5 separate regions of the Homo sapiens genome follow, and all the other regions are linked to region 1. The links come from fine-mapping of genetic effects on gene expression. A gene starts in region 1. Each other region holds a variant in brackets. All regions are shown on one strand. Distances are between the middles of the regions.

What was found.
Region 2: its variant is fine-mapped to the expression of SYCP2L in subcutaneous fat (GTEx, PIP 0.96).
Region 3: its variant is fine-mapped to the expression of SYCP2L in breast (GTEx, PIP above 0.99).
Region 4: its variant is fine-mapped to the expression of SYCP2L in tibial nerve (GTEx, PIP above 0.99).
Region 5: its variant is fine-mapped to the expression of SYCP2L in prefrontal cortex (CommonMind, PIP 0.95).

The regions. Positions count from the first base shown.
Region 1 is chr6:10,884,566-10,889,672 of GRCh38, forward strand. It overlaps SYCP2L (synaptonemal complex protein 2 like), which reads left to right and starts at 2,487. Exons shown (of 30, transcript NM_001040274.3): 1 at 2,487-2,570. The coding sequence starts at 2,562. RefSeq lists an enhancer at 1,654-2,422.
Region 2 is chr6:10,918,363-10,923,469 of GRCh38, forward strand. The region is part of intron 14 of SYCP2L (synaptonemal complex protein 2 like); the gene reads left to right. Among named protein-coding and RNA genes, the nearest start is that of SYCP2L, 34 kb to the left of the region's middle. The variant G/A (reference allele first, on the strand shown) is at 2,582.
Region 3 is chr6:10,827,064-10,832,170 of GRCh38, forward strand. It overlaps MAK (male germ cell associated kinase), which reads right to left. Exons shown (of 15, transcript NM_001242957.3): 2 at 3,485-3,814. The coding sequence starts at 3,585. Among named protein-coding and RNA genes, the nearest start is that of MAK, 8.9 kb to the right of the region's middle. The variant A/G (reference allele first, on the strand shown) is at 3,047.
Region 4 is chr6:10,863,721-10,868,827 of GRCh38, forward strand. No RefSeq gene overlaps it. Among named protein-coding and RNA genes, the nearest start is that of GCM2, 16 kb to the right of the region's middle. The variant TG/T (reference allele first, on the strand shown) is at 2,290.
Region 5 is chr6:11,643,178-11,648,284 of GRCh38, forward strand. No RefSeq gene overlaps it. Among named protein-coding and RNA genes, the nearest start is that of TMEM170B, 110 kb to the left of the region's middle. The variant C/T (reference allele first, on the strand shown) is at 2,344.

The sequences.
Region 1 (5,107 bases):
AAAGAAAAGAAAAAGAAAAAAAAAAGAAAAGGAAAGAAGAAAGAAAAAGTATCCCAGTCGGTCAGAGAAGCCTGCCAGTGGCAGCGGACCAGCGAACTCTGTTGGGAAGAAAGGCCAACTTCGAGCAGTTCCTCGCGATTTTTTCCTCCTTTATCTTCTAGCTGGGGTCCTCCTCCCAGTCAAAGCCGAAGGGTCCTAGCAGAAGAAAGTGATTTGTTCATTCCCAGCCTCCTTTCTCCCGAAGTTCTCCCCTCCTAAAAGGTCCTGTCAGTCAAGGTTTCTGATTAAAATCACTCTCAAATGGTCGCCACTGAGGTCTAGCTGGGAACGAAGAGATCTGTCTACTCTTCACCCACGAGTTTCATTCACAGATTTTTCATCTTATTAACTGTCTGCCAAAGGTCCCCGAAACTCCTGTTGATTCAGTTGCTTTTCGTGTTGTTTTGTCTTCCAAAATTGAATGAAAATTTATTGATTATCCATTTTAATTATAGTATTTCATTAAATGTTGTAGTCTAAGATAACTTATCCTTTCAAATGTTCTAAAAATAACTTTAAAATGGTGATTTAAAGTTACCTCTGAAAATGCATAGAAATTAATTTTTGGTCTTATTGCAGTGCTAGAATAGTTCTTGTCTCTGTGCTTTTGGAATGTTCCTAGAGAGACCTGACCCGTCAAAAACATAAATAAATAAAACTTTTTTATGTAAAAGGCAAATCAATTAATTTCTAAAGGGATTCTGGTATCCAAAGAAATGTCATAGAGCCTCTACTATATTTAGTTTGAGAAGAATTAGAGTATGCATTTCAAGTTGCCATAAATTATATTAAGACAAAACATGTTAGTAAAAGAAGCTAATCAAAGTAAAAAAAAAACCAGATAAAAGGTATTTTGCCTATTCTGTTATTTTTAATTTCTCTTAAAGATTTGAATGCATTGCACCATAGACTTTGGAAGGACATGTTTTCCCCCAAAGCCTGAAAATAATAGATGATTAAGTTTTCTATCTAATATTATGAAAACTCTAATTTTTAAATATTCTCTTAAAATTCATTTAAACTGTAGTATTTTGTTTATTGCTTCTTATTATTCATTGTTTCTTTCTTGCCCTGGTATTATATTTGTATTGACTCACAATAGCTTATACTCACAGCTGTTCCTGTCTTGATTACTAGTTTAATATTACAAAAGTCCATTCATTGAAAAGGAAAAAAACTTGCGTTTGAATTTCCTTGGTTTAGATTAAAATAGGTAAATTAATGTAAGAATGTTTACATTATACTTTCCAGGAAATTGATATGACAGGCTTTGACATAAACATTGTTTTGAACGGACTAGAAATGTGTGCAAGTCCTGGGCTAACAGGGGTTCTGGTTTTGTTATGTTTTGCTTTGGTGTAGACAAATATCTTCCGTACATATTATGACTTGAAATACTCACAGGTCTAGTTATAATACAAGTTGATTTTTACACAAAGGATGTTTGGATTGGAGGGGTCTTTTTTTTGTTTTTTGTGGAAAACTCTAGTCCAATTTAATTTTGCCACCGTGTTCACACAACTGGCCACCTATCCGAATCAGCCTAGCCATTGGTACGCATACTTGTCAGGTTAAAGGAAATAGGCAAACAAAGAAACAAAAAAACAAAAACAAAAACAAAACTATTTGCTTTGATTAAAAAAAAAAATTCCCCTTCCTCCCCACCACGGTACTTAAAAAACAACCACCAAACACACTTTGTGTGTGTGTGAAATCAGGAATGTATTAATAATATCGGGTACAAGTCTGGTTACCATAGGAAAGGGTTCGGCTTCTGTCTGCACACATCAATGGACCAAAAACTGCTCCTCTGGCTGTTTTTTTTTTGAGACGGAGTCTCACTCTGTCCCCCAGGCTGGAGTGCAGTGGCGAGATCTCCGCTCACTGCAACCTCCGCCTCCCGGGTTCAAGTGATTCTCCTGCCTCAGCCTCCCCAACAGCTAGGATTACAGGCACGTGCACCGCGCCCGGCTAATTTTTTGTATTTTTAGTAGAGACAAGGTTTCACCATGTTGACCAGACTGGTCTTGAACTCCTGACCTCAAGTGATCCACCAGCCTCGGCCACCCAAAGTGCTGGGATTACAGGCGTGAGCCACCGCGCCTGGCCGCCCCTCTGGCTTTTTAAGGCGGGGCAAAAACTTGGAACAGCTACCACAAAGCGAACGCCTATCTGTTTGGAATTTCGCAAATAAGGAACGTTTAAATGACGTAGTTCACATCCTTTGAGTGCTGGCTTTCTCTTAAAGGGTGAGTGCGTGCGCCCAGGTGGTTTGGCCTGTGTGCGCTAGTTACTTGCACGCGCTTCTTGAGTCTCAAAACACAGAGCTCTAGTAAACTTCAGGGGGCGGATTCGTCAATTACAGTTGCGGAAGAAGACTCGACTCGAAGAGCGGTCCGCCACCAGGGCTCTTTCGGCAGCGCCCCCAGCGGGCGGGGCTCTTGGGCGGGGAAGCAGGAGAGGGCCGACCGAGCGCAACAAAGCTGAGCGGCGCGTCGCTTCAGGAACGAAGAAGCCTCGTTATGCAAGCGGTGAGTGACCCCCGAAGGGCCCGGACCTTCTGTCCACAGTGCTAGGGCGCGCGAGGGCGCGGGGTCCCTGGGGCTCAGGTTCTGCCGCCTTGAGGTGTTCGCTCAGAGACCGGGTGCTGGGCATAGTCCCCCGCCACCTCCTTGGGTTTGCTCGGAGTGTATTGGCAGCCTGCGGGGAGACCAGGCAGAATAGAAACCTCGGATCCCTAGCTAAATAGCGCTCAGGGAAAGGGGAACCGGAGAATTCGTGTTCGGAAAGCAATGAGATAGTTCTTTTCTAGTTGCTTTGCGTATTTTCCTAGCCGGTTTTCCAGCCCTCTTTCCACCTTGCTGCGTAGAAAGTGCAGAAGTGTTAAGCAACCCCAAGTGCTGGGACTTCATTTAACCGAACGACAAAGGACAGCCCCTAAGATAAAGCTACAATTATTACTTATCAATAAATAATAAAAAAAAACACATGAAGTTTGAGCCCACCCAGGGACGCCAAAAACAACAAACAAAAACCACCTGGGGCGTGTTTCTAACATTCTTCTGCCTGGGTTCCTGGTGGTAGAAATTCTGATGTAATTGGTCTACGGTGGGCCGGTAGTTTGTTAGTTTGTTAGTGAGGACGCCAGGTGATTCTGATAGCCAGGGGTAACTGCTTGCCTAGATCCAGGAACTCACTCTTGTTCTCCATAAAATCCATCTGTCATCTGGCGCCATCTTCCCAGCCATGGGGAAACAGATTTGGGACAGAAACCTTTCTAACATCAAGCTACGCTTAAATTCAGAGCACTTAAGCATAACCTCCTCACCCTCTCCATCCCTGTTACATTGAAAGCTGCCATTCACTGAGCCATTTTTATGTGCCCAGGCACTATGCTAAGAACATTACAGACATTCTGTCAGTCAGTCCTCACTCCAATCCTTCCATATAGGTGTTACCATCTTTTTTTTTTTTTTTTTTTTTTTTTTTTTTTTTTTTTTTTTTTTTTTTGAGACGGAGTCTCATTCTGTCGCCCAGGCTGGAGTGCAGTGGCGTGATCTTGGCTCACTGCAACCTCTGCCTCCCGGGTTCAAGCGATTCTCCTACCTCAGCCTCCCGAGTAGCTGAGACTACAGGCGCGCGCCACCACGCCAGGGTAATTTTTGTATTTCTAGTAGAGACGGGGTTTCACCATGTTGGCCAGGATGGTCTCTGTCTCTTGACCTCATGATCTGCCCGCTTCGGCCTCCCAAAGTGCTGGGATTACAGGCGTGAGCCACAGCGCCCGGCTATCATCATGTTTTTTAAATGAGGAGACTGAATCTCAGAGAATCTAACGATCTTTTCTGCCTAAACCATCCCACTTTCTGATTTTCCTGTCAGGTTCCTACCCACAAAAGCTGCCACATGATCTTCACAGAAGGGGGATACCTTTCTGTGTACTAGAGTGGCTCCAGAAATTCCAGAAACAGGAAGCATTTCTTTGGAATTTGCAAAGTACTGACCACCAAGGCCAGAGAAGGTTGAAAGGAGGTAGAAATAAAAATAAGCAGAGCATCTCTGCATACGAATTGAACTGAAGGAGAGATAGGGCCGTGTCTATAGAGAAAAGAGGTAAAGAAGCTTAACATAAAGGCTCCCGGGAATATTTTCTTTGGGATGGGAAGTATTTCCCACTAATTCAGAATTTGTTGACAAAACTTAGAAATTATAGATACGTAGCATAGTGTTTATTTGATGTCAGTTTATGCTATGAATTAACACCCTTTTTTTTTTGATACGGAGTCTCACTCTGTCACCCAGGCTGGAGCGCAGTGGCTGGATCTCGGCTCACTGCAACCTCCACCTCCTGGGTTCGAGTGATTCTCCTTCCTCAGCCTCACGAGTAGCTGGGTCTACAGTCACGTGCCACTGCGCCCAGCTAATTTTTGTATTTTTTAGTAGAGACGGGTTTCACCATATTGGACAGGCTGGTCTCGAACTCCTGACCTCATGATATGCCCGCCTTGGCCTCCCAAAGTGCTGGGATTACAGGCGTGAGCCACTGCGCCTGGCCTAACACCCAATTTTAATTGTAGCTTTAGCTGTTCCTCCTATCTCACTTTTGCCTCTACTCAATTATCCACTAACACAATGGTTCTTTTTCTTTGCCTTTATCATTTATTTTTAATTGACACATATATTAATTGACACATAGTAATTGCACATGTTAATTGGGTGTAGTGTGATATTTCCATATGTGTATACAGTGTGTAATGATCAAATCAGGGTAATTATGCATATCCATCACCTCAAATATTTATTTCTTTGTGTTGGGAATGTTCAAAATCTACTCGTATAGCTATTTGAAAATATACAATAAGTTGTACATTATAGTCACCTTGCAGTACTATCTTACTCTAGAACTTACTCCTTCCAGCTAGCTGTAATTTTGTGTTCATTAACTAACCTCTGCCTATCTCACTTCCTCTTTTCTAGTGACCACTATTCTCTCTACTTCTATGAGATCAGCCTTTTTTTTTTTTTTTTTTTTTGAGATGGAGTTTCACTCTTGCTTCCCCAGCTGGAG
Region 2 (5,107 bases), 34 kb after region 1:
TTTTCCAAACTTTCGTATTTCTCTTCTTTCTCGGGAGTGCCAATTATTCTCACATTTGGTCGTTTAACATCATCCCAGACTTCTTGGAGACTTTGTTCGTATTTTCTTATTCTTTTTTCTTTGTCTTTGTTGTATTGGGTGAATTCGAAGACCTTGTCTTCGGGCTCTGACTTTTTTTTTCTTTTCTTTTTTTGAGACAGAGTCTCGCTCTGTTGCCAGGCTGGAGTGCAATGGTGTGATCTCAGCTCACTGCAACCTCCGCCTCCTGGGTTCAAGTGATTCTCATGCCTCAGCCTCCCGAGTAGCTGGGATTACAGGCACGTGCCACCATACCCAGCTAATTTTTGTATTTTTAGTAGAGACGGGTTTCACCATGTTGGCCAGGATGGTCTCAATCTCCTGACCTCGTGATCCGCCCACCTTGGCCTCCCAAAGTGCTGGGATTACAGGCGTGAGCTACCATGCCCGGCTGACTTTCTTTCTTCCACTTGTTCGATTCTATTGCTGAGACTTTCCAGAGCATTTTGCATTTCTGTAAGTTGTCCATTGTTTCCTGAAATTTTGATTGTTTTTTATTTATGCCATCTATTTCATTGAATAGTTCTCCTTTCACTTCTTGTATGATTTTTTTATTTCCTTACATTGGGCTTCACCTTTCTCTGGTGCCTCCCTGATTAGCTTAATAACTAACCTCCTGAATTCTTTTTCAGGTACATCAGGGATTTCTTCTTGGTTTGGATCCATTGCTGGTGAGCTAGTATGATTTTTGGAGGGTGTTAAAGAACCTTATTTTGTCATAGTACTAGAGTTGGTTTTCTGGTTCTTTCTCATTTGGGTAGGCTCTGTCAGAGGGAAGGTCTGGGGCTGAAGGCTGTTGTTCAGATTCTTTTGTCCCATGGGGTGTGCCCTTGATGTAGTACTCTCCCTCTTTTCCTATGGTTGTGGCTTCCTGAGAGCCGAGCCGTAGGGACTATTATCTCTCTTCAGGATCTAGCCACCCAGCAAGTCTACTAGGCTCCGGGCTGGTACTGGGGGTTGTCTGTACAGAGTCCTGTGATGTGAACTGTCTATGGGTCTCTCAGCCATGGATACCAGCACCTGTTCTGATGGAGGTGGCAGTGGGGTGAAATGGACTCTGTGATGGTTCTTAACTTTGGTAGTTTAATGCTCTGTTTTTGTGCTGGTTGGCCTTCTGCCGGTAGGTGGTGATTTCCAGAGAGCATCAGCTATGGTAGTGTAGGGAGGAACAGGCGGTGGGTGGGGCCCTAGAACTCCCAAGAGTATATTCCCTTAGTCTTCAGTTACCAGGATAGGTAGGGAAGGATCATTGGGTGGGGGCAGGATTAGGAGTGTCTGAACTCAGACTCTCCTTGGGTGGGTCTTGCTGTGGCTGCTGTGGGGATATGGGTGAGGTTCCCAGGTCAATGGAGTTATGTTCCTAGGAGGATTATGGCTGTCTCTGCTGAGTCATGCAGGTTGTCAGGGAAATGGGGAAAAGTCAGCAGTCACAGGCCTCACCCAGCTCCCATGCAATCCAAAGGGCCGGTCTCACTCCCACGGTACCCCCCACCCTCAAAACCACCAAGTCTGTTTGCAGGCAATGGGTGAGCAAGAAAGCAGGGGATTTTAAAGGGGACTTGGCATGAATGGCATGTAAGGGAGAGAGTGAGGAAGTGTGGGGTCTTCATGACTTGCTTTGATGTCTTATCCATCAGGTGGTCTGGCTGGTGCCATCGTGGGCAGAACTAGGTTGTACATTGACTGTTGTCTCAAGGCAATCTCCTGGTGGGGAGAATCTCAGGGGGTGCCTGGTTTGGTTCAACGTTTGTTCCTTAGAATTTCTTTTTGTTTTGTTTGGTTTGGTTTGGTTTGGTTTTGAGACTCTCACTGTGTCACCCAGGCTGGAGTGCAGTGGCGTGATCTTGGCTCACTGCAACCTCTGCCTCCTGTGTTCAAACGATTCTCCTGCCTCAGCCTCCTGAGTAGCTGGGATTACAGGCCTATACCACCATACCCAGCTAATTTTTGTATTTTAGTAGAGATGGGGTTTTGCCATGTTGGCCAGGCTGGTCTCGAACTCCTGACCTCAAGTGATCCAACAGCCTCGCCCTCCCAAAGTGCTGAGATTACAGGCGTGAGACACCGTGCCTGGCCTCCTTAGAATTTCTAAGCAAACATATAGTTAGATGAGCTTGCAGCACAGAGAGTGCCTCATGGGAAGAAGGTAAATGTTATAATTGCGTTCCTTTTTTTATTTTCTTCAACTTTTATTTTAAGTTCATGGGTACATGTGCAGGATGTACAGGTTTGTTACATAGGTAAACCTACACAGGTTTGTTACAGGTTTGTTACATAGGTAACTTTTAAGTTAATGGGTACATGTGCGGGATGTACAGGTTTGTTACATACTCTCTGCAGGACAGAGAGTGCCTCATGGAAAGAAGGTAAATGTTATAATTGCGTTCCTTTTTTTTTTTCTTCAACTTTTAAGTTCATGGGTACATGTGCAGGATGTACAGGTTTGTTACATAGGTGCAGGATGTACAGGTTTGTTACATAGGTACATGTGCAGGATGTACAG[G/A]TTTGTTACATGTGCCATAGTGGTTTGCTGCACAGATCATCCCATCACCTAAGTGTTAAGCCCAGCATCCATTAGTTGTTCTTCCTGATGTTCTCCCCCAACATACCCAGGCCCCAGTATGTGTTCCCCGCAATGTGTCCATGTGTTCTCATCATTCAGCTCCCACTTATAAGTGAGAACATGCGGTGTTTGGTTTTCTGTTCCTGTGTTAGTTTGCTGTGGATGATGGCTTCAAGCTCCATCCATGTCCCTGCAAAGGACATGATCTCATTTTTTTTATGGCTGCATAGTATTCCAAGGTGTGTATGTACCACATTTTCTTTATCCAGTCTATCATTGATGGGAATTTAGATTGATTCCATGTCTTTGCTATTGTGAATAGTGCTGCAATGAACATAGGTGTGCATGTATTTTTATAATAGAATGATTTATATTCCTTTAGGCATATACCCAGTAATGGGATTGCTGGGTCAAATGGTATTTCTTTCTCTAGGTCTTTGAGGAATCACCACACTGCCTTCCACAATGGTTGAACTAATTTACGCTCCCACCAACAGTGTAAAGTCTTCCTTTTTCTCCGCAACCTTGCCAGCATCTGTTGTTTGACTTTTTAATAATAGCCATTCTGACTGGCATGAGATGGTATCTCATTGTGGTTTTGATTTGCATTTCTCTGATGATCAGTGATGTTGAGGTTTTTTTCATACGTTTGTTGGCTGCATGAATATCTTCTTTTGAGAAGTGTCTGTTTATGTCCTTTGACCACCTTTTTTTTTTTTTGAGATGGAGTCTCGCTCTGTCGCCCAGGCTGAAGTGCAGTGGCGCGATCTTGGCTCACTGCAAGCTCCGCCTCCTGGGTTCATGCCATTCTTCTGCCTCAGCCTCCCGAGTAGCTGGGACTACAGGCGCCCGCCACCACACCTGGCTAATTTTTTGTATTTTTTAGTAAAGACGGGGTTTCACCGTGTTAGCCAGGATGGTCTCGGTCTCCTGACCTCGTGATCTGCCCGCCTCGGCCTCCCAAAGTGCTGGATTACAGGCGTGAGCCAACATGCCTGGCCGACCACTTTTTAATGTTTTTTGTTTGTTTGTTTGTTTGTTTTTCATAATTGCATTCCTAAAGAGCTAAGTAAGAGGTGGGGGAAAAGGAAAAAGGTAAAAATAATTCATTATTTTCTTTAAGAATGTGGGTGCTCAGTTAACAGCTTTCAGGAGTCAACTTGCCAAAGTTAATATTTTGTAACTTCATGAATAGATCACGTTTCTGTGGTTCATGGTTTTTAATTTACAAAGTGCCTCACAATTTCTACAGGAAGTAGGTATTACTCTTTCCATTCTTATAGCCAAAGAAACTGATGATTGTCTAGTAAATTCCGTAAGTAAGACTTTTGTTCTGTATCATAGCCCTTCTGGTTATGGAGTTGGCAGTGTAGTATGTTGGAAGCTTGATGTAGCCCTCATGGTATTTCTTCTGACCCTTGTATATGTTTGCATTGATCCCACGGCCCAGTTAGCTAGTTACTTTTTTTTTTTTTTTTTTGAGACGAAGTCTCACTCTGTCGTCCAGGCTGGAGTGCAGTGGTGCGATCTCAGCTCACTGCAAGCTCCTCCTCCCGGGTTCACGCCATTCTTCTGCCTCAACATCCCGAGTAGCTGGGACTACAGGCGCCCGCCACCATGCCGGGCTAACAATTAGCTAGTTACTTTTTAAGATATTTAAGATTACTTTTGTTGCATGGTTTTATAGACTTTCCCTGGAGTGATGAGTAAAATGTCCGGCAAGATTAGTATTTTGGGGAGATCATGGAGGCTTACTCTAGACCAGCACTGTCCTATAGAAATATGAGGTGAGCCAGATACTTAATTTAAAATTTTCTAGTAGTCACATTAAAGAAAAAAGTAGATTAATTTGAGTAGATTAAAAAAGTAGATTAAGTAGATTAATTTTATTAATATATTTTGTTTAACCCAGAATATTATATCCTGGAATAATAATATCCAGAATATTATTTTAACATGTAATCAATATTTTAAAATTATTAATGATACATTTTACATTCTTCTTTTGTGTACTGAGTCTTCATAATCCGATGCGTATTTTGTGCTTACAGAGCATCTCGGTTAGTACTAGGCATGCTTTCAGTACTCTGATGAGTTGGACCTCACAGATTTAGACTCATGTATGTTTCCCTCTTTTTTCCCCTTGTTTCCCGTCTCATTAATTTGTGGCCATTAGCTTTGCCTGTTCTTTCCTGGACTTTGCTGCCTTTTCTATTCTCCTTCTTCCGACTTACCTTGTACTTAATGTGGTGTATTCTTGGCCTCTTTGTGAATTTGGTCTAAGCCATTTTCTCTTGTAAGCCCGATTACAATTTGTCAGGAAAGGGCTGGTGACCTGGGAGGAGGCTGCAAGGAGGCTATTGTCTGAAACACACACTTTTTTTTTTTTTTTTTTTTTTTGAGATGGAGGCTTGCTCTGTCACCCAGGCTGGAGTGCAGTGGCATGATCTCGGCTCATTGCAACCT
Region 3 (5,107 bases), 58 kb before region 1:
TCGCGCCACTGCACTCCAGCCTGGCAACAGAGCAAGAATCCATCTCAAAACAAAACAAAACAAATACCATATTTTTGAAGGATAAAACAAATACCATATTTTTGCCACTCAGAAAAAAATGATGGACATTTTGTCATATAAAACCAGACAGTAATAACCATCTGTGGGACTGTACCCAAGACCCAACACCCCTTCTGATTCGCCTACCCTCCTCCCCAGAACCCATGGCTATCATGGATTTTGGGTGTATCTTTCCAGGCCTTTAAAAATATTTTTGTATATGGATGTATTTGTATATAATAAAGTATTTCTTTGTGTGAATTTACATAATCATTTAATCTACAAATGTGGGCTATTTCAGCTCATTTTGTCTAATAACACTCATTTCTTAGGTTTCTGTCTTATAGCAGTAGTAAGTATCCCCAATGCAATCCTAATCAGCAGGACTGCTAGCAGGCATTTGGGGTTTTCAAACAATTTGTACTGATATTACTTCTGATATTTCACATTAATATGAATTATATAGGTTTTCGTACTAATTCACATTAATATGAATTATGTAGGTTAGGGAAGTTTCTTTTTATTCCTATTTGCTAAGTTTTTGTTTTGTTTTACTTTTGTTTTTGTTTTTAGATAGGGTCTCACTAGGTCACCTAAGCTGAAGTACAGTAGTGGTGGCACTATCTTGGCTCACTGCAGCCTCGACCTCCTGGGCTCAAGCAATCCTCCCACCTCAGCCTCCCGAGTGGCTGGGACTATAGGTGAGCACCACGATGCCCAATTAATTTTTGTATTTTCTGTAGAGGTGGGGTTTCACCATGTTGCCAAGCTGGTCTCAAACTCCTGGGATCAAGCGATCCTCCTGCCTTGCCCTCCCAAAGTGCTGGGATTATAGGTGTGAGCCACTGCATTCAGCCAAGAGGCTTTATCATAAGTTTTTTAAGAAATCAATGTTTGTTTTTTTTAGTTCATCAAATCACAAATGAGCACTGAATTTTATTAAGCCTATTCAATTTATTTTTCATTTCCATTATTGTATATTATATATTTACTTATCTGATGATAATGACTATTTAAAAATATTTTATGAAGTTATTTCCTTGTACATGTAATGGTTTAGATCATAATATTTTAAAACATTTGCTAAAGTATTTAAATTTTAGTTTGTCATAATTTGGTTGATGTGGTAATGTGGAGATGCGTATCCCATGAGTACGGGACTGGTTCTGGTGGAAGTCAACTGCCATGTCCCGAGGCTATTCAAACAACCCTCTGGAAAGGCCCAAGGAAGGAGCCTCTGTAAAAGGGAATTGAGGTGCCTCTTGCCAACAGCCAGTACAAATATGCCAACCCTGTGAGTGAGTGTGATGGGTTCAACTGTGTCCCCCAAAACTCCTATATTGAAGTCCTAGCCCCCAGACTTTCACGGTGTGACAGTATCTGAAGATAGGGTCTTTAAAAAGGTAATTAAGTTTAAGTGAGGTCTTTCAGGTAGGCCCAAATCTGATATGACTGGTGTCCTTATAAGAGGAGCCTGGGCAACATGGCAAGACCCCATCACTCCAAAAAAATTTTTTAAAAATTAGCCACATGTTGTGGTACACGCCTACAGTCCCAACTACTCTGGAGGCTGAGGCAGGAGGATGGTTCAAGCCCAGGAGGCTGAGGCTATAGTGAGCTATGTTTGTACCACCGTACCTCAGCCTGGGCGACAGAATGGAACCCTGTCTTGAAAAAAAAGAGGGGGGAAATGTGGACACAGACATGCACAACGAGAAGATCATATAAAGACCTAGAGAGGATATGGCTGTCTACAAGCCAAGGAGAGAGGCCTCAGAAGAAACAACCAGCAGATACCTTGATGTTGCACTTCTTGCCTCCAGAACTGTGAGGAAATAAATCTCTGTTGTTTAAGCCAACCAGTCTGTGATACTTTGTTACAGCAGCCCTAGCAAACCAAGAGTGAGCCACCTTGGAAGTAGATCCTGCAGTCCCAGTCAAGCCTTCGGATGACTGAAACTTCGGCCAATTATCTGACTGCCATCAGAGAACCCAAGCCAGAACTACCCAGCTAAGCTACTTCTAAATTCCTGACCCACAGAAACTATGTGAATTAATAAATGTTTCTTCTTATTTTAAATCACTAAGCTTTGCAGGTATTTTGTTATGCAGCAATAGATAAACACAGTGGATTAAAAACAAACAAATTAACAACAATTCTATTTCATAAGTTCAGGAATATAACATATATCATTCAGAACTCAATTTGACATTATGAATACCATCTGATTTTGAGACCTTGTTTTAAAGAAATAATAAGCCCTACTCTGCACTCAACTTTAAATGTGAAAAACAGGTCAGGAATGGTGGCTCACACCTGTAATTCCAGCACTTTGGGAGGCCAAGGTGGGTAGCTTGCTTGAGCCTGGGAAGTCAGGACTGCAGTGAGCCATGATCACACCACTGCACGCCAGCCTGGGCAACAGAGTGAGACCCCCATCTCAAAAAACACAAACAAAAACGAAAACCAACAAATAAATTTGGAAGAACATTCCAAAGATCACCTGTAGTTTTGGTCCAAATGTATTATACATATAAAAAAGGAGGCACTCATATTTTTTGGTTTATCAGTGTAGCTGGACAAGCCAGACAGTTAAAGTAATATAGAAGAAAAACAGCAGAATTCCTCTTTGGCAATGTTCTTTTCCAAGAATGACATTCCACATGAGCCAGATGCTATTTGATCTAAACTAGACCTCTTTCTGTGCTCGTATATATTCTTTTTTTTTTTGAGATGGAGTCTCCTTCTGTCACCCAGGCTGGAGTGCAGTGGTGCAATCTCAGCTCACTGCAACCTCTGCCTCCCAGGTTGAAGCGATTCTCGTGCCTCAGCCTCCTGAGTAGCTGGGATTACATGTGTGCACCACCATGCCTGGCTAATTTTTGTATTTTTAGTAGAGACAGGGTTTCACCATGTTGGCCAAGCTGGTCTCAAACTCCTGACCTCAACCCAAAGTGCTGGGATTGCAGGCATGAGCCACCGCAC[A/G]CAGCCTGTGTGCACGTGTGTGTGTGTGTGTGTGTGTGTGTGTGTGTGCGTGTGCACGTATATATATATATTTTTAGACGGAGTCTCACTGTATCACCCAGGCTGGAGTGCGGTGGCGCGATCTCAGCTCACTGCAACTTCCACCTCCTGGGTTCAAGCAATTCTCCTGCCTCGGCCTCCTGAGTAGCTGGGATTACAGGCGCGTGCCACCATGCCTGGCTAAGTTTTGTATTTTTAGTAGAGACAGGGTTTCACCATGTTGGCCAGGCTGGTCTCAAACTCCTAACCTCATGATCCGCCCGCCTCGGCCTCCCAAAGTGCTGGGATTACAGGCATGAGCCACCGCGCTGGCCTGTGCTGGTATATATTCTTAAGCGAGGACAGGAAAATAAAGAGCAGAGTTTTCAAAGGTGAAGTTGGCAGTGTCACACACAGTACCTTTTGATGGCCACCAGCTCCCCGGATTCATTACTCTTGCCCATAAGCACACTCCCATACGTGCCGTCCCCCAACTGTCTCATGGTTGTGTATCGGTTCATCTTGGAAAAATAATGCAGCAGAAGTTGTTGATTGAAATGACTTCCTTGTTGAATATAAATTTGAACGCTTCTTAATTTTTATTTGCTTTTGTCCTCACACTGTTGTTGCTACACTGGTGACAGGTTTGTCATCATTAAATATAGTCTCTCCCCCAAGATTACAGAGGTTCATGAGATATAGCATGAAGGAATCGGGCAAGGAAACAACACTTCCATTCTTATAAACACCCTAAAGAAAGAAAACAAGGATATCATGAATTTTCATTAACAAGTCTCTTCAAAAATTGTACTGGCAACTTAGAGCAAAGGGAAAATTATAAATAATATAAATACTATTGTGTTAAATATTTGTCAGTAAGTCATTTGTCTATGTAAAATGAAGTTCACATATAACTCACTGGTAATACTCACTTGGTAAATGCCTCATTTACATGGTACTGTGCTATTTATGTTCAATAATGGCATAATGGCTTGTATGATTCCTTTTTTACTAAATATAATCTACATTATTCCAAATCAGACCTTGGAAAATTGATGTCTATATGATATCCATTCTTTGAATCAATTTTTGTATCATATTTAATTTGGCATATTGTTTAAAACTGTACTACTTGTAAATTTTCTGTGGAATATAAGTACCCCAATTGGGTAAGGTAAGTATAAAGCAAACTTTTGTTTCATATGAAAGGAATAGCATTATTTTAAAATTTCATATTCTATTTAAATAACATGCTACTTTATTTTACATCAAACTAAGAAAAATGTAAATACTAATTAGGATTTAGTGTCACACTAGGTTCATACAAAGAAATAAGAAACATAGCCGGGCGTGGTGGCTGATGCCTGTAATCCCAGTGATTTGAGAGGCCAAGGCAGGAGGATTGTAGAGGCCAGGAGTTCAAGACCAGCCTGGGCACCATATCATGCCCTTCTTTACAAAAACTAAAAAACTAGCTGGACTTGATGGCACGCTTGTAGTCCCAGCTACTTGGGAGGCTGAGGCACGAGGATTGCTTGAGCCCAGGAGTTCAAGGTTACAGTGAGCTATGATCACACCACTAAACTCCATCCTGGGTGACAGAGTAAGACTCTGTCTCTAAAGAAAAAAAAATTTTTTAATAAATAAAAAGGGAAGTAGAGCCTGAAGATGTGACTGAAATGTTGTAACCTCATAATCAAACTTGAATGAATGAGGAAGTGTTTCTTATGGATGAACAAAGAAACTGTTTTATTGAGATGGAATCTACTTCTGGTAGAGATGCTATTAACACTGCTGAAAAGACAAAAAAGAATTTTTTTCTTTTTTTGAGACAGAGTGAGACTCTGGTTGGAGTGCAGTGGCACAATCTTGGCTCACTGTAACCTCCGCCTCCCAGGTTCAAGTGATTTTTGTCCCTGAGTCCTCACCCCTGTCACCATCACTCCCCCAGTAGCTGGGATTACAGGTGCCCACCCCGACCCCCAGTAGCTGGGATTACAGGTGCGCACCACCACACCTGGCTAATTTTTGTATTTTTAGTAG
Region 4 (5,107 bases), 21 kb before region 1:
ACTGCACTCCAGCCTGGGGGACAGAGCGAAACTCTGTCTCAAAAACAAAAAACAAAACAAAAAAACATATTCCTCACAAAGAATGTAAGCCCCATGAGGGCAAGAACCATGTCTACGTTGTCCATCCCTTTACTGTCAGGTTTTAGAACATTGTAGGTGTTCAGAAACTTTGTTTGAATGTGGGATCATTGATATGTTTATTATGTGCATGAACATATTCAACATCTATTGCTTCAAAAACAGATTCTTTACAAATAGAAACAGTGCTCTATTCATTCAAGTATATTATTCTTACAAATGTATTAAAATATTCATAATCAAGAAGAATATATTCATAAAGATAGTTGTTGAATATTCATAAGGATGTTTCATAAAATTTTGTGAACAAATTTCATGAAGATTTTATGAACAAATTACTTATGAAGTAATTTGAGGAATGTGTACATGGAAAGTTTTTGAAGAACATCTGGAGAAGAAAATACTAATAAGGAAAATATTTTAATAAGAAAAGCTTCAAGATGAGGAAAATATTCATGAAGAGTGTTCCTCATCTTCCCCTCTGCCTCTGCAGCTGGGCTGTTTTGCCTTCCCCATTTCATTCTTTCCTTGGAGAATTTTCCTCTGCCCAGCTCTTCCAGCTGCAGAGACAAGTTCAGCCTTCACAATTTTAATGTTTCCAACAATCATAAAATTAGCAAGTAAAAATTCTTGAAATATCATTATATTTTCCTATGTATAAAATACAATGCATGCAATAATGTACTGCCATGCCCTGCTATTTAACCTATTATTTGGCGTGTCTTATTTCTCTTGTTTACTACAAATTTCTTTTGAAATATTTTTTAGAGGCTGGGTACCGCTGTGTCTCCCAGGCTGGAGGGCAGTGACTATTCACAGGCAGGATCACAGTGCATACTCACGACCACACTGCAGCCTCAAGCCATCCTCCTGCCTCAGCCTCCTGAGTAGCTAGGACTACGGATATGCATCACTGTGCCGGGCCTATTTGTTTTTTCCTACTACAAATTTCTTGAAAGCAGCGACCTCATTTTATGCTTCTCTGTAATTCTCATAGTGAGCATTTAGCATCTAACAGGTGAATGCATATATTCTGTTGATAATGTCATGAGTTTTTTTTTTCAAATAATCTTTGCAGATATATTTTTTGAGGTAAGCTTAATTTTTTTAAAAATCACAAAACCAGATCATAAAGTTGTACCTTTATTCTAAAAGCTCTTTTTAGCGTTCCATGAGGACAGTGGCATCCTTGCAGAGGACAGTAGCACCCACAGCAGAAATGGATGGGCATCTGTCCACAGGGCACTCAGTCCTGATAACAGAAGACTGGGATAGATGACATCCATTCTGGTGTCACAATTCTGGGCACGTTTGAATTAAGGGGTTTTATTGCTACATCTTGGCAATAGCCAGAAATGATCTTTGAAAGCATAGTGCTTAAAGTGGTTAAGAGAAGGAATTCAGGTGGTTTATGGAAACCCGGATCAGTACTGCAGCCTAATACATAGGCCCTCTTGAAGCAGAAGGCTTTTTCAACTGGGGTTTTTAAAACCTCACACTTAAGAAGCATTGGAAGAGAGAATGTTTATTTTCCGCAGGCGGAGGCCTCCAAAGGCAGGTGGCTGGCATTTTTACCCAGTAGTGCCCTTCTGCTGCATCTGAAGAGCCACAGGTCGCTGCAGTTGGAGAGGGCTTCTCCTTCTTCCTCTTCTCCCCCATGCCCACAACCCTGACATGCCTCATGCTTGTCATTCAAATTTATCATTCAAACCATAACACTATGTGGGTAGCTCAGCCGTCTGAGAGAGGAGCAGAAAACCCAACTCTAATGGGCTGATGAATGGAAAATACATTACTGATGTAACATTCAAAGGACACTCTTGCTTTATCTCACCCAAGTAGAATGGAAATATGAGTAAATAGGTTGACAATCAGCTGATAGTGTCGTTTGTAAATGAAAACGTCAAAGGGTGATTTTTTTGCTTTTTAAAATCTTGTGCTGTTTATCTTTGATGTGTATACTTTAAAGGATAATAAAATATTTTTTCTCCCACTAGAGTACACAGTTAAAATAAATATTATTTTTTCATAAGTGTTCAGTACCTGAATTGTTTTTATATAAATGCACTTTTAGTTTTTTGGTTTATTCAAATGTCATTTAGTACATTTTGGACAAGAATGAAATTAAATGATAATATTCACATTAAGTAGAGTACCAGATAAAATACAGGACACCTAACTTTGAATTTAAGAAAAATGATGAATAATTTT[TG/T]TTATGTCCACGCAGTATTTGGGATACAAACTCAGGCACTACATAATGACACTTCAGTCAACTATGAACTGCATATATGTTGGCGGTCCCATAAGATTATAATAGAGCTGAAAAATTCCTATTGCCTAGTGACATCATAGCTGTCATAACGTCATAGCGAAATGCATTCCTTGTGTGTTTATGGTGATGCTGGTGTAAATCAACCTACTGCATTGCAGTCGTATAAAAGTCTAGCATATACAGTTATGTATAATATGTAATACTTGATAATGATAATAAACAACTGTGTTACTGGTTTATGTATTTACTATACTTTTTATCATGATTTTACAGTGTGCTCCGTCTATTTATAAATAAAAGTTAGCTGTAAAATAGCCTCAGGTGGGTCCTCTGGGAGGGATTCCAGAAGAAGGCATTAGTACCATAGGAGATGACAGCTCTGTGCATGTTATTGCTCCTGCAGACCTTCCAGAGAGACAAGATGTGGAGGTGGAAGACAGTGATATTGATGATTCTGACCCCATGTAGGCCTAGGCTACTGTGCGTGTTTGTGTCTTAGTTCTTAACAACAAAAAAGTTTAAAAAGCAAAAAATAAAATAAAAAATTAAGAATAGAAAAAAACTTATAGAAGGAAAGAAATATAAATAAGAAAATATTTTTGTACAACTGTACAATGTGTGTTTTAAGCTGTTATTGCAAGAGTCAAAAAGTTTTTAAAAATTTATTCTACTATAAAGACACATACACACATGTTTATTGCAGCACTATTCACAATAACAAAGACTTGGAACCAACCCAAACGCCCATCAATGATAGACTGGATAAAGAAAATGTGGCACATATACACCACGGAATACTATGCAGCCATAAAAAAGAATGAGATCATGTCCTTTGCAGGAACATGGATGAAGCTGGAAGCCATCATCCTCAGCAAACTAACGCAGGAGCAGAAAACCAAACACTGCATGTTCTCACTCACAAGTGGGAGTTGAACAATGAGAACACATGGACACAGGGAGGAGGGAGGGGAACAACACACACTGGGGGCTGTCTGGAGGTGGGGGGCAAGGGGAGGGAGGGCATTAGGACAAATACCTAATGCATGTGAGGCTTAAAACCTAGATGAATTGTTGATAGGTGCAGCAAACCACCATGGCACATGTATACCTATGTAACAAGGCTGTACATTCTGCATATGTATCCCTGAACTTAAAGTACAATTTATATATATATATATATATATATATAAATATTTTTTAAATTAAAAAGTTTTGTAAAGTAAAAATGTTATAGTAAGCTAAGGTTAATTTATTATTAAAGGAAGAAATTTTTAATAAATTTAGTGTATCCTAAGTATGCAGTATTTATAAAGTCTATGCTAGTATACAGTAAGGTCCTAGGCCTTCACATTCATTCATGACCCACTCACTGACTCAATCAGAGCAACTTCCAGTCCTGCAAGCTCTGTTCATGGTAAGTGTCCCACACAGGTGTACCATTTTTTATCTTGTTTTTTTTTTTTTTGAGCCGGAGTTTCACTCTTGTTGCCCAGGCTGGAGTGCAACAGCATGATCTTGGCTCACCGCAACCTCTGCCTCCCAGGTTCAAGCTATTCTCCTGTCTTAGCCTTCTGAGTAGCTGGGATTACAGGTGCATGCCACCAGGCCTGGCTAATTTTTGTATTTTTAGAAGAGACAGGGTTTCATCATATTGGTCAGGCTGGTCTCAAACTCCTGACCTCAGGTGATCCACCCACCTCGACCTCCCAAATTGCTGGGATTACAGGCATGAGCCACTGCACCCGGCCCATTTTTTATCTTTTATACTATATTCTCACTGTACCTTTTCTATGTTTAGATATGTTTAGATACACAAATACTTATTACATTATAATTGCCTACAATATTCAGTACAGTACTATGATGTCCAGGTTTGTGGCCTAGGAGCCATAGGTTCTACCATATTAGCCTAAGTGTATAGTGGGCTCTATCATCTAGGTTTGTGCAAATACAATCTGGTTTCTCCACAAGGATGAAGTCGCCTAAGGACACATTTCTTAGAATATATTCCCATTGCTAAGTGATGAATGACTGTGCTTATATTAAAAAATTACTCATTGTTTATCCAAAATTCAAATTTAACTGGATGGCCTGTATTTTTGTTTGCTAACTGTGGCAACCCTATCACCAAGGCAAATTTCACTGGAAGAAATTTGAAGCTCTCACTACAGTTTTTAATCAAGCACGTTGACTTTTATTCACACTTGAAAATCAATGTTACATCATCCAGAGAGTACGTATGTTGTCTCCAGCTCCTTGTTTCCCACTGGCCCTCAGCCCATTCCAATCTGCCTCACAGAGCCCCGTCACCCCATGGAAACAGGTGTCTTCACGGTCACCAACACGTTCCCTGTTGCTACACCCAATGGACGCTCATGTTAACATCTCAGCCGCATTCTGCAATGTTGACCTCCTTCTCTCTTTTGAAAGAGTTCGACTCCGGCTTCTGTGACCCCCTTCTCTGTCCTGGTTTTCTACTTATCTGGACACTAATTCTCATCTCCTCTATCAGATCCTTCTCCTCTTAACTCCAAATTGGGAACTCTTCATGGCTTCATGCAAGGTTCCCCTGTCCTCCTCTATACCAACACTGTCCAATAGAACTCCCTGTGACGATGGACATGTCCTCTTTCTGCACCATCCAATGAAGTAGCCACTAGCTATATATGGCGACTACGCACTTGAAATGTAGCTCGTGTGACTGAGGGATGGAATTTTAAATTTTATTTATTTAATTTTTTTATTGAGAGTTTTGCT
Region 5 (5,107 bases), 760 kb after region 1:
AGACACCACAGGTATATTGATTTTCCCATCACGGTAGAGGACAGTCCTGGGAATCAGTGTCACTTATCTGGTTTTGATAAAACACAGAAGGACATGAGCAAACTCAGATGCCAGGTAACATCTTTTGTGTCCAGGGAAAGGCCCAGAAGACAGAAGCTGGTCCTCCCGGTGGGTTGCACTTTCATTAAACAGAGTCACCGTGCATTCACACAGTAATCTACACTTTCCAATGTACTTCCATAATTGATATTTTACTCCCTCCCCAGAGTACTGTGATGGAGTAGGCAGTAGCACTATGAGAGCAGCAAATTTTATGGAAGATGAAACTCAGCGGCTCAGGGAGGTTAACTGACTTTCTTGACGTCATAATGTCAGAGGTTCCCTGACCACCTTGATGGATTCCTAGGAGATTTAAGGATGAAACTGGTGGTGGTGGGGTCCATAACTCACTGAAATGATACTTAAAATTTGCTTTTTGCAGGTGTGTACATGCAATTTTATTGAAGAGATTTTCACCACATTCTCAAAGTAGTCATTGAACATCAAAAGCTTAAGACCTCCAGGCTTTTCAGTGTGTAACTGGAGAGGTATGGAAAAAACTGGCCAACCACAACCCTTGTGGGAAGAGAGTGGGGCCCACATGTGAAGTAGAGAGTTCAGGATGAGAGTCACAGTCCCTCTCTGCCCAACGTAGCTTAAAAGGCCCTTTCACCAGCAGCAGCGATATCACTATGTCACTACACAGCCATCAAACTTCCATCTTCATTACTTGTTCAGAGGACCCTACATGGGAACTCTCCCAGTGCTCACACACCTGCCTGGTACAGTGACAGCATTCCATCACATGTGAGCCTAACTTTAAGAAAACCAGATTATAAAAAATCATTTAGCTTCTAGTCCCAGCTACTCAGGAGGCTGAGGCGCAAGGATCACTTGAGCCCAGGAGTTCTGGGCTGTAGGACGCTATGCTGGTTAAGCATCTGCACTAAGTTCAACATCACTATGATGACCTCCCAGAAGCAGGGGCCACCAGGTTGCCTAAAGAGGGGTGAGCCAGTTCAGATCAGATACAAGCAGTTAAAACTACTGTGCTGATGAGTAGTGGGACTGCACCTGTGAATAATCACTGCATTCCAGCCTGGGCAACATAGCAAGACCCCATCTCTGAAATAAATAAATAAAAATGATAAATTTAAAAAATCATGTAAAGGATAAATATGAGAGTGGGGTAGTTTTCTACTTTACAAAATGATGCAACATATTTTTCTGAAGCAGTTTTAGGTATAAAGTGTTAGTTTATAGGATTATCATGCCTGTAGCTTACTTAGAAATATTTGACAGTGGCCAGGCGCGGTGGATCATGCCTGTAATCCCAGCATTTTGGGAGGCTGAGGTGGGCAGATCACGAGGTCAGGAGATTGAGACCATCCTGGCCAACATGGTGAAATCCCATCTCTATTAAAATACAAAAAATTAGATGGAGAGGTGGTGTGCGTCTGTAGTCCCAGCTACTCAGGAGGCTGAGGCAGGGGAATTGCTTGAACCTGGGAGGCAGAGATTGTAATAAGTCAAGATTGCGCCACTGCACTCCAGCCTAGCAACAGAGCAAGACTCCATCTAGAAAGAAAGAAATACTTGATAGTATCTAGTGTGATACTATGTGTGTTACTTTAGCTTAGGTGAACTTCATGTGCCAATCAAGAACGCCTCTTATGGGGTGACCAGGCAGGATTACATCAGAAAGGCCAGACACGTCTTTTACAAGCCCTCCTTGTTCAACAACCATTACTTTGCTGATTCTTACATAAGGTGTAAACAATAGGTTTTTATTGATGAAATTCGTGTCTTGGTAGTTAGTTTTCACTGGCAAAATTAAAGGAATTCAAGATGCATAGATTAGAGCTTAGAGGTCCTCCTTCCTTCTTGACTGAAGAGGACCTCAGAATGCACTCAACCATGGATCTGTTCCCTTTGAGGATATTTTCTTAGCTTGAGCCCCAGTTAGTCTTACAGCCATTGGTTAAGAGATGAGATAATGCAGATGGCAATGTTTTGCAATGTTTTGCATCTTGCTGAGAATTGTTGCTGTGTCTGTGGTGAGCAGACCTTTTATAGGATATGCTTGGAGCACCTAAACAGAGAGCTGAGAGCTGGGACTCCAAGTTTACAGGACTGCTTGATGAACTGTTCTGAGCTTGTTTTGGTCAGGGACTTGCTTTTTTTTTTTTATTACCTGCTAACAAGGTGGTAGAGGAAAACTAATTATTTGCCCACTCCGATTTTCTTGAAGCCCACTGCGATCTACCAAACCAAAGCAAACCAAACTCCCAAAGTTGGCCATGA[C/T]CAAATTAAAATTAAATACTTTGTGGTAATGTTATTTTTCAGAGGGTCATTAATCATACACATGTAATGTAGAATTTGCCTACGTGGATTCTCAACATTTTTTTACTCGAGAGATAGCATGAGGGAAAAGGCTACCATGGAAGAGGACTGAGGAAGAGGATTTCTTCCTCCAAAGAGGTTTAGGAAGAGGAAACGAAAGGCAAGTTCAAGAAGACAGCTCGGGGTGAAGGTCCTGGTGAGGATTTCAGAGTGTAGATGAAGATCTCACCTAAAGCACTGGTGGGGAGTCCAGAGGGATGGGTTCCTTGTCTCTGGAGGGAAAGAATGAAAGCATTGGAAAGACATGCACTCCTCCCCTATAGAAGAGTTGGAGAAAGAAAGGGACAACTTCAGCCAGGCGCAGTGGCTCACGCCTGTAATCCCAGCACTTTGGGAGGCCGAGGTGGGTGGATCACTTGAGGTCAGGAGTTCGAGACCAGCCTGGCCAACATGGTGAAACCCTATCTCTACTAAAAATACAAAAATTAGTTGGGTGTGGTGGCAGGTGCCTATAATCCCAGCTACTTGGGAGGCTGAGGCAGCAGAATCACTTGAACCTGGGAGGTGGAGGTTTCAGTGAGGCGAGACTGTGCCATTGCATTCCGGCCTGGGCAATAAGAGCAAAATTCCGTGTCAAAAAAAAGAAAGTCATAGCTTCATTATTTGTTTATTTAAGAAATACTTAAATATATCCCAAGAAAAGTTCTAGCTGGCTGATTAGCAGGGAATGACCACAATATTTATGAAAGTTTTCTCTTACCATTTTCAGAAATCTGTTTGAGAATTGTCAGCATTTTAGCTTGTCTCAGGATGCCGGCATGAACCACATCTTTGCAGGTGCTCCGCTAGGACCATTTTTTGTAAAGCCAATTAATATACATTTATTTAATGTCTATCTAACTGTGCTAGGCACTGAGGAGGACAGAAGAGAAGCATTTGACTTAGTTTTGACCTCGAGAACTGATAGAAGATGCCGATTTGAAAGACATTAGACAACTAGCCACCCATTTCCAGCATTTTATGGTTTATAAGCATTATTATGATGGGATTCAGTGGAAGAGGATATTAGTGCAGGCAAATGTGAAGGCTTTGAGCAGAAGACAGGATTTAGGCTGAAGCTGTATTTTATAAGCTTAGATATTTATTTTGATAGGGAAAAGGGGAATCTTTGAAACAGAGTCAGGAGGCTGGGTGAAAATGGGGAAGAGGGAAAGTAGCCTCTACATCAGCGCAGCTATGTCACTGTCAACATGAGGGCTTAGGAGGCAACCGGCTCTGTTCACTGCTCTCTGAAGCCAGCCTTGGCTGAATTCTAGCCAGTCAAGCAGACGTCTGACCAATACTTTATATAGCAGCTTGGCAGAAAGAGTACCCCTTCCTCCACCACCATCAAGTAAAAAATGGTGAGGACAACAAAACTCACACCTAAAAAAATGTTAGGCCATGCTATGATTCACTTGCAAACCAGAATTAATCTGTAAGTCTATGAGGTGCTGGCCTGGGGGCCTAACGGGCTCGTACTCACACATGAGGGACACCAGGAAATAAGAATTCGCATGGGAGAAGAGAGGAGGACTCAGAGGAAGTAAATGTACTCAGCTTAGACTGAGTAGGAAGGGGCTTCCCAGGCCCTAGCCGACCCCACTGAGGCTGGCTTCAGGTGGGCAGATTTCACTACTGCTGCCCACCTCAGCATGCAGAAAAGGTCATTATCAGCACATAAACAAAACACACTAATCTAAAACACTTTGCTTTCATTGAAATCAAACACAATTAACTTATTATTTTAACTACCCAGTAGAGTCCAAGGTGGAATTTTAAAAACCAAGGAAAAGAATATGATAACTTTCAGAGAGTTCAAAGAACAGTCAGGCCATTTTATCAGTACAATTGTTTTGGAGGTCACTGTTTTCTGAAAGAATTAAAAGTGGAAAGGTCCTCAGGGAGCATCTGTCCACCCTCCTCGTTTTACAGATGAGGGCGCAGAGGCTGGAGACCGAAGGCACTTGCCTCAGTTACTTAGTCATTTAGAGCAGGGTCAAGGTTGGGACGAGATTGCAAAGAGTCTGGGTGAAGTCCCATGCTCTTTCAATTAAATTTGCCAGCTAATTATGAGTATTTAATTAACCTCATAGTTTTTTAAAAGCTTTGATGAAATAAAATTCATATAACGGATAATTCACCCCTGTGACGCTTACAGATCAATGGCCTTTACCATATCCACACAGTTGTGCACCCATCAGCAGAAGCAATTTTTAGAACATTCTCATTATCCTAAAAAGAAATTTCACACCCCTTAGCTGTCAGTCCCTGATACGCCTATTTGGCTATTTCTGCATCTTCTTGGGAGAAATAGCCGTTCAGAATGCCTCCTAAGTCTTAGGCAACCACTAATCTGCTTTCTGTCTCCGCAGTTTGCCAGTTCTGGATGTTTCATAGTATGAAGTCATATAATATGGGGTCCTTTGTGACTGGCTTCCTTCACTTGATATGTTTGTGGGTTTTTTTGTTTTGTTTTTTTTCTTTTTGAGATGGAGTCTCGCTCTGTTGCCCAGGCTGGAGTGTAGTGGTGTGATCTCAGCTCACTGCAAGCTCCACCTCCCAGATTCAAGCAATTCTCCTGCCTCAGCCTCCCGAGTAGCTGGGACTACATCACTTGGCATGTTTTTAAGGTTCATTCATGTTGTAGCATGTATTTATACTTCATTTCTTTTTGTTGCTGAAT